Homo sapiens: one gene and its partner. The protein of the gene in region 2 purifies or fractionates together with the protein of the main gene of each other region. This does not show direct contact. Each region holds a gene or a part of one and is shown on either strand. Other genes may lie near its edges.

Region 1 (2,576 bases), on a different chromosome or scaffold from region 2:
TTCCCCTAAAAACAACAATGAAGTGTTCTGGGTGCTAACAACATAGCTTAAAAAGAAAAGTAAAACAAAATTCTGCATTTTTATAAAACTTGATAAAAAATAGTTTTTCAAACTGTACAGTCACCAGAAGTACACAGTTATCAAAAATGCACACACTACACTTGGCATCTGCAGCACCTTCAGCTTTCTGTGCCTTCCCTGTTTTGGCATCTCTATTTTCTGCAGAGTTATTCCCCTCCTTGCCAGCATCAGCTTTTCCCTTTTTCCCTTTGGGTACCTTCTCTCCCTTCTTTGCAGGGGCATTTTTAGGCTTGGCCTCTGGATTTGGAGGAGCAGGTTTAGCAGACAACTTTGCGGGCCTTCTCTGTGGTTCGTCCTTCACCTTGGCTTATCTCCTTCAGCATCCCCTTCAGCCTTTCTCCTGGGCATGGTGGTGGCCACCCCAGCGGGATATAGGCACTGGATGCAGGATGCAGCATTGTGCGGGTTTTGGTCAGTCTGGGGGCTGTTCTTGCCTCTTCTTCACACTGCTCTGTCTTTCTTAACCTTTGATATATTCTTGGCCATCATTTCTTCAAGTATATTCTCACCCTTATTTTCCTTTTGGAATTCCTATTCATCCATCGTTGGAAGTTATGAATCTCACTTCAATATCTCACGATATCTCATCTAATTTTTTATACTTTCTATCCCTTCATTGCTTTTTAAAATTTTGGTGTTGCATCTGGAAGAATTTCTTGCTTTGCTCTGCCAGCTCATGGTTACATTTTCAGTGTTGTCCCTTCTGGAAATCATCCTTTTATAGCATTTCCTGAAATTTCAATCTTTACTCTTTTAATTCCCAAGCTCTCTGGTTTGTTCTTTTTTTATTTTTTAATGACTGTTTGTCCTCGTTCCACAAACTTCAGTTTAATTCAGTTTGATTCAACTCAATCCAATTCAATTAAGCGCATGTATGGGTACTTCCTGGCCTCTAGCACTGCGTAGATGCTTGAGATATAGCTGTGCACAGAATGGCAAAGAACCCTGACCATGTGGGGCTTGGATTCTAGTGAAAGGAGAGAAATGGCAAACAATAAATGTAATAGTAGGCAAATTTGTGCTATGTTAGAGGTCTTTACCTCTCCTAGAAAAATAAAAATGGTTACAGCAGGATAGATAGACCAGCAGTACCAGGAACACAGGCGGCGTCAGGCTGCAGTGGTGAATAGTGCAATAGGCATCATTGCCTAGGTGAGATGTTAGCAGGGAGTAGAAAGAGCTAGGGAAGTTAGTTAGCAGGTGTCTAGTGAGGGCACGTCCCAGGACCAGTGAGGACCGGTGTGCAGGAGTGAATTGAGGAATGAGTCCAGAGAGATAAAGGCAGACATGAAAGTCTTGTCCTTTGCAAGGACTCAGCCTTGCAATCTGAGTGAAATGGGAAATATTAGAATGTTTTGAACAGAGGAATGGCGTGAAGGGGCTTAGGTCTAAAAAGGATCTCTCTGGAGATCTTAGACTGTGGCGGGCAAAGGTGAAAGTCCTTCAGGAGACTTTGAGGTGGTCTAGGTGTGATTTGATGGGCCAGGAGATAGCAGCAGAGGTGGGGAGCAGTGAGTCAGATTCTGGTAGTATTTTAAGTGGAGGAAACAGGATTGTGAGTGTGATCAATAAAGTCAGGACTGAGAATGACATTTGCTACTTTGTCCTGTCAGCTAAGTCACCCTTATGTTGTGCGTTTGTTCTCAGATGGGGACTAAGAATTGACTGTTGCGTTTGGCAATGTGTGGGTCTTTGGGGACCTTGGCAGGAGCAGTGTTGGTGCTGTAGTGGGGGCAAAAGCCTGGATGGAGTAAGTTTAAAGGGAGGAATTACAAGAAAGGGATCAGAGACAGCAGATATGGACAGCGATTGCAGGAAGTTTTCTGCAAAGTGGAACTGGTGGCGGTGGTGGGTAAGCAAAGTAGTTATTTTGTTTAAGATGGTAGAAATGACAGCAAATATGCTGATGGGAATGACTAAGAAGAGCAAGCAAAATTGATGGAGCACAAGAGAGCAGGGAGAACGGCTAGAGGGATGTCCTTAAGTTGCAAGTGCAGATAGGACCTTTCACCCAGTCCTCCTCAAGCAGGGAGGTGCAGATATGGGTGCCATGTGCTGGGAGCCCATGTTATGGTGTGGTTTGTACAAGTTGTCTTCTAATTACTTCAATTTTCTCAGTGGGTAGGAAGTTGAAGGTGATGATGGAGGAGGTATGGGAGTTTCAAAGGAGGAAGCATTCTTCCATTTATTAAACAGCAAATCTCTGTTGAGTAGAATGCTGGGGGCTTTCCTCTGTGTTGAGGAATACAGTGATGAACAAGTCTAACAATCATTCTGGGATTGATGAATAAATACGCTAAGTTTAGATAGCAGTTGGTACTAATGAAGAAAATAACTCAGGAATATGATCGCAATGAGTAGGAGGGAGGATTCCAAACCGATTTTGGCTGGGATGGAATGTTCAGTAAAGTTCTCCCCAAGGAGGAGACCCAGGTGATGGGGAGCAGCTGGCCTTGGGAAGATGTGGGGCTGGTGTGAGGTGCAGGGAGAGTAAG
Region 2 (3,979 bases):
TAAGGCAGTGCTCCCCGGGGACTGAATACAGGGCCTCGTGCGCACCCCCCACCATGATGACCACGGCCTGCCCGAGCTGGGGCTGGGACAGGATGAAGTCCAGGCTCTGGCGGCTCACCGGACAGAGTCCTGTGGGCAGGAGGAGGTGGAAAGTAGTTCCCATCTGCCTCCACGGCACCCCCGCCCCTCACCCAGCCTTTAGTTCCAAGCCCCCTACCCCCATCTCCAAGGCGGGGAACCTACCCAAATGCTCACTGCAAGTCTGGGCAGTGCTCAGGCTGGCCCCTGTCCTGGGTGGGGGACTTATTATGGGGGGGGGTGGTCCCAGAGGGGCTGGGGAACATCTGGTCAGGAGTCTCCTCCCGTTCTCCTCCTCCCATTCGGCTCACCAAAGGACATGATGTAGTCGCGATAGACCGGGAGGTAGAAGAGGCCAGCCAGCACGGCTAACCAGGGCCGGAGCCCCGGGAAGAGCTGGGAGAAGCCATTGCTCTCGGTGGAGAAATTACAGAGGAAGCCTGTACACATGATCCCATGAGGGTGGGCGCCCAGCACGTAGTTCCGATCCGGGGGCAGCTCTGCTGTTTTCACCAGCTTCGGGGTGTTGAGCAGGATGAAGGGAGGATGGAAGGCAAGACACCGGCTGAAAAGAGGGGCCCTCCACCCCAACAGAGTTCCGAGTTAAAGGTTCTTAGGATAGGGTCAAGGGCCACCCCAGCAGAGTTCCGAGTTAAAGGTTCTTAGGATAGGGTTAAGGGCCCAGGTTTTTTTTTTTTTTTTTTTTGAGATGGAGTCTTGCTCTGTAGCCCAGGCTGAAGTGCAGTGGCACGATCTCGGCTCACTGCAACCTCCGCCTCTTGGTCCCGGTTCAAGCTATCCTCCTGCCTCAGCCTCCCGAGTAGCTGGGATTACAGGCATGCGAAACTATGCCCAGCTAATTTTTGTATTTTTAGTAGAGACGCAGTTTCACCATATTGGCCAGGTTGGTCTTGAACTCCTGACCTCGTGATCTGCCTGCCTTGGCCTCCCACAGTGCTGGGATTACAGGCGTAAGCCACCTCACCCACTCTCTCTTTTTTTCTTTTCTTTTTTTGAGGCAGAGTTTTGCTCCTGTTGCCTAGGCTGGAGTGCAATGGCATCATCTCAGCTCACCACAACCTCCGCCTCCCTGGTTCAAGCAATTCTCCTGCCTCAGCCTCCAGAGTAGCTGGGATTACAGGCATGTGCCACCATGTCCGGCTAATTTGTTTGGTATTTTTAGTAGAGATGGGGTTTCTCCATGTTGGTCAGGCTGGTCTCGAACTCCTGACCTTAGGTGATCCACCCACCTCAGCCTCCCAAAGTGCTGGGATTAAAGGCTTGAGCCACCACAACCGCCTTTTTTTTTTTTTTTTTTTAGAGACGGTCTCACTCTGTTGCTCAGGCTGGAGTACAGTGGCGCAATCATGGCTCACTACAGCCTCCAACTCCTGGGCTCAAGCAATCCTCCCACCTCGGCCTCCCAAAGTGCTTGGATTACAGGCATGAGCCATGGTGCCCCACCAAGGCCCCGCTCTTGAACATCATCCACTCCCAGGCCGGGCGCGGTGGCTCAAGGCTGTAATCCCAGCACTTTGGGAGGCCGAGGTGGCTGGATCACTTGAGGCCAGGAGTTTGAGACCAGCCTGGCCAACATGTTGAAACCCTGTCTCTACTAAACTACAAAAATTAGCCAGGCATGGTGGCGGGCACCTATAATCCCAGCTACTAGGGAGGCTGAGGCATGAGAATAGCTTGAACCTAGGAGGCGGAGGTTGCAATGAGCTGAGATTGCACCACTGCACTCCAGCCTCGGTGACAGGAGACTCAGTCTAAAAAAAAAAAAAAATCCATTCCCTGTCCCACTGCCTGAGCTTAGGCAGCGGGGAGCTCAGGCCCCAGCACAAGGAAGGGCTCCTAGGTGTGGGAGGGAGATGGGGAGAGGTAGGAAGCAGTTTTTCTGCAGGGTGACCCATCACCTTGACAGGATAATAATCCCTTAGTTGTCTCCAAATTGCCCGGTTCCTTATCCACTCCGAACGCCTTCCACCTGCGGACAATGAGATACTGGTGGACGAACCCCCGGAGTCACCTCCCCTCACCCCCCATGTCCCCACCATCTCTGGCTACCTGGGCCCCCATCCGGAGCTCACCTTGGTTGGGTGTGTCCCAGTCCACATAGAGCCACACCAAGTAAAAAACAGAGAAGGGCCAGAGTGACGTGAAGAGGAGGACAAAGACAAGAAGGGAGAAGAAAGGGCCTGGGGGAAGGGAGAGAAAGAAAAGAGTTCACTTCTGAAACTCCATCATTCCCTCCAGCTGCTCCCTTCCCTTCCTCCCCTTCAGAACAACCAGCTCTCTCCTCTGGCCCTCTCCCAGACCAGTCACCTGGTCACTGTCCTCAGGCATGCAAGCCAGCAGCCCAGCCACTCTCCCTCCAAGCCCTACTCCCCTGGCAGACCCCAGGCACCCACGCCTCCCCAGCTCTCACCCATGAAGAGGAAAGTGAGCACATATTGGTAGGCGCCCACTGCTTCTAGATGCTGCTTCTGCAAGGTTTTGGAAGTGGTTGGGGGCTGCAGGGTTGTGGCAACTCCCATTGCAGAAGCTCCCCTCTTCCAGCAGGATCCCAGAACCCGGAGGACAAACGATGAAGGCTTGGATGTGGACCTGGGCAGACTTTCTCCCTACAGGAGCCCAGCTTTGGGGGCCTGGCTAAGTCGCAAATCACCTCCCAGAGTAGCGTGTGTCCGTAGGTGTGTGAGTGGGGAGATCTTTGGATCCAGAGCCCCAGATGTCTCTGGGTTTTTTCTCAGCCTGATCTTTGAACTTCCTGTCAGTCACCAGTCTGGGCTGGCTGCTGGGTGGGGCTGGGAGGCGTAAGGGGTGTGCAAGGGAGAGGTGACACCCGAGTGCCTCAGGAATTGATGTTGGAGTGGACAAGAGTGATCTGGCTAGCCCCACCCACTGGGTCCCAGGTGCTGGAAGGGGCCAGAAGCCCTGCTGAGACTATTTGACCTCCAGTCGGGGTGGGGGCAGGGCCTGGTCCGGGGCATCTCCAGGAATGTCAAGGTCACCACCCCTGCCTGGACCTCCCCCGCCATGCACAAACACACACAGGCTGCAGGTCTGTTTCCCACTTTAATTTTTTTCTTTTTCTTTTCTTTTCTTTTTTTTCTTTTTTTTTCACACGTCTCGGTCACCCAGGCTGGAGAGCAGTGGCACGATCTCGGCTCACTGCAACCTCCGCCTCCCGGGTTCAAACGATTCTCCTGCCTCAGCCTCCCGAGTAGCTAGGATTACAGGCGCGCCACCACGTCTGGCTAATTTTTTTTTTTTTTTTTTTTGGATTTTTAATAGAGATGGGGTTTCACCATGATGGCCAGGCTGGTCTCGAACTCCTGACCTCAAGTGATCCACCCGCCTCGGCCTCCCAAAGTGCTGGAATCACAGGCGTGAGCCACCGTGCCCTGCCGCCAGTCTTTAATTTCACTTCCCCACCTGCAGTCACCCAGCGGACAGGCGAGGCCAGGCGGTGGGGCGCGCCTCCGTGAGGACCAGGTGTCTGTCGGCGGGGACACCATAGCGCGCCTGGTGCTCCTCGAAGAGCTGCGTGAGTCGCCCCACGTAGCGCGCTTGCAGCGTGTCCACCTGGGCCGGACTGGGCGGGGGGCTCTGCTGCACGGGAATCGCCGACCCCACTGCGGGCGGGACGGGAGGCGATCTGGGCTGGGATCCCCGGTTCTCCTCCTCTTTTCCTCCTTGGGGATAGGCGGGAACAGAGTTCAGGGCTGGCGCGGTGGCCAAAGGCCAGTCTGGGTGGCCCCAACCCGGGACGGGGAGGGAGCGGGCCCTGGGCCAGGATCGCGGGGCGGAGGCCGGGGCTCACCTACGGTGCGGATGGGCGCGCGGAAGGGCAGCGGGAGGCCCCGGCGGCCCAGGAACAGCTGCAGGGCCACGC

Evidence for each region. Proteins that work in one complex are often made in the same cells at the same time.
Region 1: the proteins of MOGAT3 (region 2) and IL36G purify together in Homo sapiens (affinity purification with mass spectrometry; one large-scale study listed by BioGRID and IntAct). This does not show direct contact.

What each region holds. Positions count from the first base shown.
Region 1 is NC_000002.12:112,981,006-112,983,581, forward strand, and holds part of IL36G (interleukin-36 gamma), read left to right. Parts: exon of another isoform or gene 1-538; intron 539-2,576. UniProt on the Homo sapiens protein: Cytokine that binds to and signals through the IL1RL2/IL-36R receptor which in turn activates NF-kappa-B and MAPK signaling pathways in target cells.
Region 2 is NC_000007.14:101,198,237-101,202,215, forward strand, and holds the start of MOGAT3 (2-acylglycerol O-acyltransferase 3), read right to left. Parts: upstream 2,801-3,979; 5' UTR 2,619-2,800; coding exon 2,510-2,618; intron 2,280-2,509; coding exon 2,172-2,279; intron 2,069-2,171; coding exon 1,998-2,068; intron 595-1,997; coding exon 390-594; intron 130-389; coding exon 1-129. UniProt on the Homo sapiens protein: Catalyzes the formation of diacylglycerol from 2-monoacylglycerol and fatty acyl-CoA. Also able to catalyze the terminal step in triacylglycerol synthesis by using diacylglycerol and fatty acyl-CoA as substrates.